3 separate regions of the Homo sapiens genome follow, and regions 2 and 3 are each linked to region 1. The links come from fine-mapping of genetic effects on gene expression. A gene starts in region 1. Each other region holds a variant in brackets. All regions are shown on one strand. Distances are between the middles of the regions.

What was found. PIP is the estimated chance that this variant, and not a neighbour inherited with it, causes the effect.
Region 2: its variant is fine-mapped to the expression of PRPF6 in whole blood (TOPMed, PIP above 0.99).
Region 3: its variant is fine-mapped to the expression of PRPF6 in visceral fat (GTEx, PIP above 0.99). The same link has a PIP of 0.9 or more in tibial artery and unexposed skin.

What each region holds. Positions count from the first base shown.
Region 1 is chr20:63,979,983-63,982,736 of GRCh38, reverse strand. It overlaps PRPF6 (pre-mRNA processing factor 6), which reads right to left and starts at 1,605. Exons shown (of 21, transcript NM_012469.4): 1 at 1,421-1,605. The coding sequence starts at 1,491. It also overlaps a transcript of SAMD10 not described here. RefSeq lists a silencer at 1,311-1,420 and an enhancer at 2,491-2,550.
Region 2 is chr20:64,073,853-64,076,606 of GRCh38, reverse strand. It overlaps RGS19 (regulator of G protein signaling 19), which reads left to right. Exons shown (of 6, transcript NM_005873.3): 3 at 1-82; 4 at 2,066-2,140; 5 at 2,229-2,463; 6 at 2,563-2,754. The coding sequence ends at 2,754. Among named protein-coding and RNA genes, the nearest start is that of MIR6813, 1.8 kb to the left of the region's middle. The variant A/G (reference allele first, on the strand shown) is at 1,213.
Region 3 is chr20:64,029,287-64,032,040 of GRCh38, reverse strand. It overlaps PRPF6 (pre-mRNA processing factor 6), which reads right to left. Exons shown (of 21, transcript NM_012469.4): 19 at 2,550-2,664; 20 at 1-123. Among named protein-coding and RNA genes, the nearest start is that of C20orf204, 5.5 kb to the left of the region's middle. The variant A/G (reference allele first, on the strand shown) is at 1,366.

The DNA.
Region 1 (2,754 bases):
CAGCTGCTCTGGGGGGTTTCAGCTGATAACAGCTGTCCCAGATGCCACGGGACCATGATGTAATTTTTGCCTCCCTCTCCCACTTTCCCCATCCTGTCTGTCCCCAAGTACTAATGAATCCACTTTCAAAATCCCTCCTTCCCAGACTATGACTCCCATCACAGCTGGAAACCAAGTTACCTCTCCCTGCCTTTAGCCTTCCTCTACTTCAACCCATGCTCTGCCAGATGATTCTTCCCAAAACACAGCTCTGAGTAAAAAATTCTGGGCCGGGCGTGGTGGCTCACGCCTGTAATCCCAGCACTTTGGGAGACGGAGGCGGGTGGATCATGAGGTCAGGAGTTCAAGACCCCCCTGGCCAACATGGTGAAACCCTGTCTCTACTAAAAATACAAAAATTAGCCGGGCGTGGTAGCGGGCACCTATAATCCCAGCTACTCAGGAGGCTGAGGCAGAGAACTGCTTGAACCCGGGGGGCAGAGATTGCAGGGAGCTGAGATCGCACCATTGCACTCCAGCTTGGGCGACAGAACAAGACTTTGTCTCAAAAAATAATAATAATAATAATAATTCTGAAGGGTCATGATCTTTCTAACGTCTCCAGGAGCTCTAGCCTGACGCTCAAGGCCCCTCCAACCTCCTGAGCTCTATTCTATTCGCTGTACATTCCACTCACACTGGACTCCCTCCTGTTCCCTGGGCTTCCTCCTTGCCTCACTTTTTTTGAACTCCCACACGCAGAATGTCAGTTTCTCTTCTATCGTCACCGTTTCTACAGCCCTAAGTCCAGCTCTCTTACTAAACTTGGCTCCAATGCTACTCTCCATTAAGCACTGGGTTCTAAATCTGGTCCTCTTTACGTACTTATTTATGGTAATAGCAAACCCTCCTTAGTGAGCTTGTGTGTGCCCCACAGATTCCAATATAATACCACCACCAAGAAAAACCCAGTAGTGTTCCTCATCAAATGAATAGCCAAATAGGATAATAACGACTGCTCACTTATCCAGCAACGCACGGTGGTCATCTGTGTTGCAGGCATAGAGGACCCAGGCACGCTTAAGGCGGGGCGGGCGGGCGGGCGGGGGGGGGGAGTGTCAGCCCGACCTGAGGAAGGTGGTCGCGTGTTTCCACTACACGTCAGATTCCTCTACTCCTCACTGCAGACCGTATACAGCATTACCCATCTTACAGACCAAAACACTGGGCTGAGAGTCAATGTGTCACATCTAGGCGGCAAGCAGGGTGCACACACAGGTATGTCCTGACCCCAAAGCCCGTTGCTTCCTGCAGGGATTAAGCCGATCCACCAAGCGTCTTTCAGACTGCGCGGCCATAGACCCCCGCCCCCAAACACGCCCCAAAGCACTGCGCTCCTGTAGCCGGGTCCCCGCCCCTCGCGCGCCGCCCCAGGCCTCACCCCCGGCCCAGCCCCGGCACGTAGCCGAGGGGCGCGGGCATCCCTAGGAACGGTTTCTTCTTCTTGTTCATGGTGGCGGCGACGACCAAGGCTAGGAAGGAAAGGAATGAGGCAGCGGAAGAGGGAAAGACGCAGAGACTCTAGGCTTCGACGTCCGATGCACTCCGTAGCAAAGTGTCGCCGTCGTCGCGTCACCCGCGCCCCGGAAGCAGAGCGCTCAGTCCGCACACGCCCCGCCCACTTTTGATTCCCTGGGCGGAAGTCCCGACGTCCTGGTTCGACGACTTCCGGCCGCGGCTAGGGGGCAGGAACGTGGTAGGCGCGTGCGCGGGAGCGCCTCCTCGTGGAGAGGCGGAAGAAGCTAGGTCGAGCTTGCACTGGGACCCTAACTGGCCCCTGGGGGCTAAAAACAGCCTGGGGCATTGCTGCTTCCCGAGTGCTCTGATGCAGTCCGGAGACCTGTCTGTGAGAGTGGGACCCATGGTCCCCTCCCTCTGAACCCATGGCCCCCTCCCTCTGAACCAGCCCAGCTGCCCGCCCTCGCCCCTGGTGCGCCCTGTCCGAGCAGAGCTGTACCCTGTCCAGTTGTGTAGAGCTTGTGTGTACTGGTTATGGGCACACCTGTCTGTGTGCGTCCTGTGCGCACACTGCTGCCCTACGCTTTTAGCACTCATATTCTTGAACCCCCATTCAGGCATCTGTCCCTCCAGTGGGACTAGAGACCCCACCCACGCCCGCCAACATGCCTTGGACATTCTGGTGAGGGCCACATCCTTAGCTCCTGGAGAGCTAATTGACGAAATAAATAACCGCAGCTGAGCTGTCGGGAACACGTCAGTACATGAACATGGCTGTCAAGCATGTGGGTGAATTCTGTGTGTGTGATTAGTGGGGTGTGTGCACAGAGGTCACGTGTGCTCGTGTTTTGGGTGCAAGTGCATGACTGTACTCTGTGCATGCATTTCTACATGTCTGTGTGCATCTCTGGTCCTCCTGCTGTAAGACATCCTCCAGAGCCCCTACATACACCCAGGGAGAGCACCCAGGCTCCTGGGCAGAGCAAGCCGAATAGCTGGTTGCAAGCCTGGCCTGCTGCTGCACCAGGCAACCACAGTTCCCTAGCCCAGCCCCATCTCAGCACTTCTCACTGGAGTCCTGGAGCAAACACACCGCTCCGGCCTGCTACAGCCTCCTTGGAGTTCCCCTCTGCCCCATCTCCAGGCAAGCCAAGCCCCTTTCAGTTACAGAGCACTGTACCGCCCCCTCTCCCCCGGGCACTGAGCCAGGTTCTGGGGCTGCAGAGGGAAGGGAGAACCACCCTGATGTTCACAGTG
Region 2 (2,754 bases), 94 kb before region 1:
CCAGTCATGATACAGCCTCTCCAGCGGCCCCCAGCCGCAACCCCTGCTGCCTGTGCTGGTGCTGCTGCTGTAGCTGCTCCTGGTGAGTAGGGCCTGGGGTGCCCAGCTGGCGAGGGGGTCGAGGGCATGGGGCCAAGCAGACCCAGGAGGGGACCCAGTGGTGGCTTCCGAGGCATCCCCGCAGGCAGGATGCCCCTGCCACCTCACAGCACTGTCCTGTCCAGGGTCTGTTGGGCCCTGGTGATGAGTGGCCGGTGCCTTGGCCCCAGGGAGCTCATGTATGGCTCTCGTACCTGTCTTGCCAAGGGTGTGTCCGTGTGCTGTGTACATGCATGTGCCCGTTCACGCGGCATGTGCTTTATCCATGCTGCTGTGAGCCAGCCCAGGCTAGGCCCTGGGGGCCTGCGGTGGAGTAAGACAGGCACAGGCCAGGTGCAGTGGCTCATGCCTGTAGTCCCAGCACTTTGGGAGGGCAAGGTGGGCGGATCACCTGAGGTCGGGAGTTCGAGATCAGCCTGACCAATGTGCAGAAACCCTGTCTCTACTAAAAATACAAAATTAGCCAGGCGTGGTGGCGCATGCCTGTAATCCCAGCTACTCGGGAGGCTGAGGCAGGAGAATGGCTTGAACCTGGGAGGCGGAGGTTGCGTTGAGCCGAGATCGCGTCATTGCACTCCAGCCTGGGCAACAAGAGCAAAACTCCGTCTCAAAAAAAAAAAAAGAAAGAAAGAAAGAAAGACAGGCACAGACCCCATACAGTGTGTGGGGTGGAGGGACGTTTGAACAGAGACCCCAATAAGGGAACTGCTGGCCCTGGGGCGATGGCCAAGAGCTTCCCGGACAGCATGCGTGGGGGAAGAAGAGCAGGGGGCGGTGGCGGGGACGTCTCTGGGCATCCCTGTGAGGGTGGGAGTGGGGCTCCCAGATGGTAACAGATTTCCTAGGAGTGTAGGGGAGCTGGTGGATGTTTTCACACCTTGCAGAAGCCTGGCCCTATTCAGGCTTCAGGCCCTGGCTGATGAGAGGACAGCGCTTCTGGATCCAAGGTGGCGTCAGCTGACCCACGGGCAAGCTGGGGGTGGCCAGGGGGCAGTCGGGAAAGGGGGTGGGAGGAGCCCAGGGGCCTAGTTCTGTCAGGACGTTTGGGTGCACGATGTCTGCCAGCCATCCAAGTGCCCTGGAGAGAGGTCAGCCGGGTATGGATTTGGGTCC[A/G]GCACTGACAGGATGCTAGGAGCCAAGGCAAAGAAGCTGCTTCCCTTGAGACAACCGGGGATCAGGCTCCAGAACCTGAAGGAGTGTGGACACGGGTTTGGGGCTCTCACCTGCGTCAGCCGACGAGAGACACTGCTGACACGCCAGACCTGCAGCGTGTGACCCCATCGGTGGGACAGGGACAGGCCAAGATCAGGCCCAGGAGCAGGGTGGCCCTGTTCCCAGGCACATTCCCATGGGTGGCCCTGTTCCCAGGCACATTCCCATGGGTGGCCCTGTTCCCAGGCACATTCCCATGGGTGGCCCTGTTCCCAGGCACATGACCCTTCTGGCCTCCCAGGTGTTCAGGGATCTCCCAGCTCCTTGTGGCCCCTCATCTTGCCCCACCCCATCTCCCCCAGGGGAGCAGAGGCAGAAGGGGAGGTGGCATACCTGCTTCTCAACCTCATGTGGGGTGGGCATGGGTGGGTGGAGGAGGTTGCCCAGTGGGCCAGGGATGGGGAGGAGCACACCAGGAGCCGAAGGGCCCCTCCTGGAAGGCCAGAGACTCGCGGGCACTGGGTCACACTGCTGGAATGGAAGACGGCAGAGTCTGTGGTCTGGGCACTGTGGCAGGGACAGTAACCTGGACTGCAGATTCTGTGGGGAATTTGGGAGTGTGGGAGAGTGTGGGAAGAGCCAGCTCCAGGGGCTGCCCTCCTGCAGTGGGTGCCCATGTGTGTCAGGTGCCTGCAGGGGCTGCCCTCCTGCAGTGGGTGCCCATGTGTGTCAGGTGCCTGCCCATGTGCTGAGGGCCTGTGTGGCCGTGGAGGCGTGTGTGCCCACGGCAGCGCTGCTTCCTCTCTGCCACTAGGAACCAAGAGCGGCGGCGCGCGTGGCAGGCCTCCCGGGAGAGCAAGCTGCAGCCCCTCCCCAGCTGTGAAGTATGGTGAGTCCAGCCGGCTGGTGTGTGCGTGCTGGGGGGGCCCCAGACCGGGAGACTCGGGCCTGACATAGCCTGGCCCCCGTGCCCACAGTGCCACGCCAAGTCCTGAGGAGGTGCAGAGCTGGGCGCAGTCTTTTGACAAGCTGATGCACAGCCCAGCGGGACGCAGCGTGTTCCGGGCGTTCCTGCGGACAGAGTACAGCGAGGAGAACATGCTCTTCTGGTTGGCCTGCGAGGAGCTGAAGGCCGAGGCCAACCAGCATGTGGTAGACGAGAAGGCGAGGCTCATCTACGAGGACTACGTATCCATCCTGTCCCCCAAGGAGGTGCGCCAGACACCAGAACAGGCCGGGGGCCGCCTGCTCCAGGCACTAGGTGGGGAAGGCAGCTCCCGCACCCCCTGACCTCAGTGTCTTGTCCTGCAGGTGAGCCTGGACTCCCGTGTGCGGGAGGGCATCAACAAGAAGATGCAGGAGCCGTCCGCACACACGTTCGACGACGCGCAGCTGCAGATCTACACGCTCATGCACCGGGACTCCTACCCCCGCTTCCTCAGCTCTCCCACCTACCGTGCCCTGCTGCTGCAGGGGCCATCACAGTCCTCCTCCGAGGCCTAG
Region 3 (2,754 bases), 49 kb before region 1:
GTGCCATGCTGCAGCTCAAACTTGTAGAAGAAGGCCCAGGCATCCCCCAGGTCCGAGTCAATCTTCACAGTGCGGTGGAACCACTCCCTGGCCTTGGTGATCTTCCGCTGACTCCAAAACAGCCTGTTCCAGCAGAAGGACGTGAACCCAGAGTGAGTGGCTGCAGGACGGTATTCTGGGGCAGGGGAACGGCTTCAGGGCCATCAGCTTCATCCCTGACCCGCAGCCCTGGTGCTCCCCTCAAGAAGGCCTGAGGATCAGGGCCTCGGCTGATCCAGAAATAATTACCCCAGATCATTAACTTGAAGCTGCCCTTCACGGGTCTAACCAAATTGGTTTTTTTTTGTTGTTTTTTTTTTTTTTTTTTTGAGAAGGAGTCTCGCTCTGTCGCCCAGGCTGGAGTGCAGTGGCGCGATCTCGACTCACTGCAAGCTCTGCCTCCCAGGTTCAAGCGATTCTCCTGCCTCAGCCTCCTGAGTAGCTGGGATTACAGGCATGCGCCACCACACCCGGCTAATTTTTGTATTTTTAGTAGAGATGGGGTTTCACTGTGTTGGTCAGGGTGGTCTCAAACTCCTGACCTCATGATCCACCTGCCTCAGCCTCCCAGTGCTGGGATTATAGGCATGAGCCACCGCACCTGTCCCAAACTGTTTCTTAAAAAATTCACACGCAGGGAAAGATCTTCCAACTCCGTAAAATTAGGGTCAGATACAAGGAGATGAAACTAAACCTGACACAAAATTAAACTGCAACTTTGATGAGGGAAAGTTATACAGTTTCAGCTCCTCACTGAGACACCTGCTGGATCATCCTGCCCCACCCGGCCTCCAGCAGCAACCCCAGTGAACACTGAGAAGATGGGCTCCAGGCAGCACAAGGGCCTGGGCCTGCAGCCCACAGCCCTCAGGCCACTGGATTCACACCGCCGTGCCTGCCAGACACATGCACACCTGAAAAACCGGGCCCGAAGAGGTCCATGCTATGAGAGGCCAGGTAAGGGTGTGCATGGCACCCCCACCCGCTGCTGGAGAAGGGATGGCGGGCGCTGGCTGCTGAGCATGCTGGCAGGCCCGGGACTCTGCGTTGCTGCCACCCTCTCCTCAGGGTCACCTCCCCCTGGAGCCAGAGGCACCGTAGTCAAGAGACAACACGAGGAGCCTCCACTCCGGGCAGCTGTTCGGGTTCGTCTCAGTTGCCAAACGGAATAATTTCACACTCTGATAACCTGATTGTTTTTTAAGCCTTGTGGTATTCTTAATTGCCCGGTGTTAGATAAACTGTGATTTAAAGAGCACAAACCCAGATAGCAGACACACAAAACACTGGCTTGGGAATAGCAAGGAGTGACTTATTTACTTTAGC[A/G]AAGCCTTTTATAAGGTTTTATGGCTGCACTATCAGAGTGTCACCCAGAAGTCACTCTGGGAGGTGAACGCACAGGGCAGGACCAAGGTAGCACCAGGCAGACACAAGCCTCCCTGTGGGGAGCCTCTCTCATCTGTCGGGGGCCTGCGGGCAGGGGAGAGGAGGTGCCCCTACAGGCAAGCCTGTGGGGGCGGCACCCAGACCTCTGGAGACCAAGCACCACTGCCACCCAGTGCTGGGGAGAAGGGATGGAGAGAATCAAAAGCCAGCACTAGGAAGGCTGTTGTCTCTGCATGACCCATGGCGGGGCAGGTGGAGGGGAAGCCGGACACAGGAGAGCTCCTGGGGCCAGACACGCCACCTCTGCCAGGTGAGCCCACGTCCTGAGCTGCAGCCTCAGGAACCCAGGGTTCTTCCAAGAACTCCCTTCACCCCACATGGTCACTTCCCAGCCTCCTGACCCACACTCAGGCCCAGCTCCTTCCCAGACTGTCATCCTCTTTCTAGAAGGAAACAGGGACCCTGGGGGTCGGGGATGGCCCTGAGCTCCCTGCTGTGCCCCACACCTGGCGGGTCTTTGCCCACATGTGCCTAGAGTCTGCATGCTCTGCCCCATGGCTACCCGCTGCTGCCTGCAAGGTTCCAGAGTCACGTCCCCAGTGAGTCTCTGACCCAGCGGCCAGCGCACCAGTGTGAATCACACGCGTCCCCAGTGAGTCTCTGACCCGGCGGCCAGCACACCAGTGTGAATCACATGTGTCCCCAGTGAGTCTCTGACCCGGCGGCCAGCGCACCAGTGTGAATCACATGCGTCCCCAGTGAGTCTCTGACCCGGCGACCAGAGCACCAGTGTGAATCACATGCGTCCCCGGTGAGTCTCTGACCTGGCGGCCAGCGCACCAGTGTGAATCACACGCGTCCCCAGTGAGTCTGTGACCCGGCGGCCAGCGCACCAGTGTGAATCACATGCGTCCCCAGTGAGTCTCTGACCACGGCACCCTCAGGTGTGTCTGCCAGGAGAGGCGCCTGCCCCAGACCACAGCAGGAGCGACGGCAGCCGAGGATCGGGGAAGCCCACCCTGCTGCCGGGCATCTTTACAATGACCAGGAAGAGGCAGACAGACTCTGGAAAAAGAGCCCATTAGGACCCCGAGGTTCAGCAATCCTGTGGGGGCCCCACTCACTTGGCCACGGCCAGGAGCACATGGGGGTCATGCTCACACTTCTTCAGGGCATCCACGCTCTTGGTCCTCCTCTGGGGCCTTGCCTCGAGGAAGATGGCCTCAGACCACAGGATACCTATAATTCAGAAACAAAGAACAAAGATTTGCACTCCAGCCTCTGGTTCCGGAAAGGTGCCCAGCCTACAGATTCTAACCCGGGACGTCC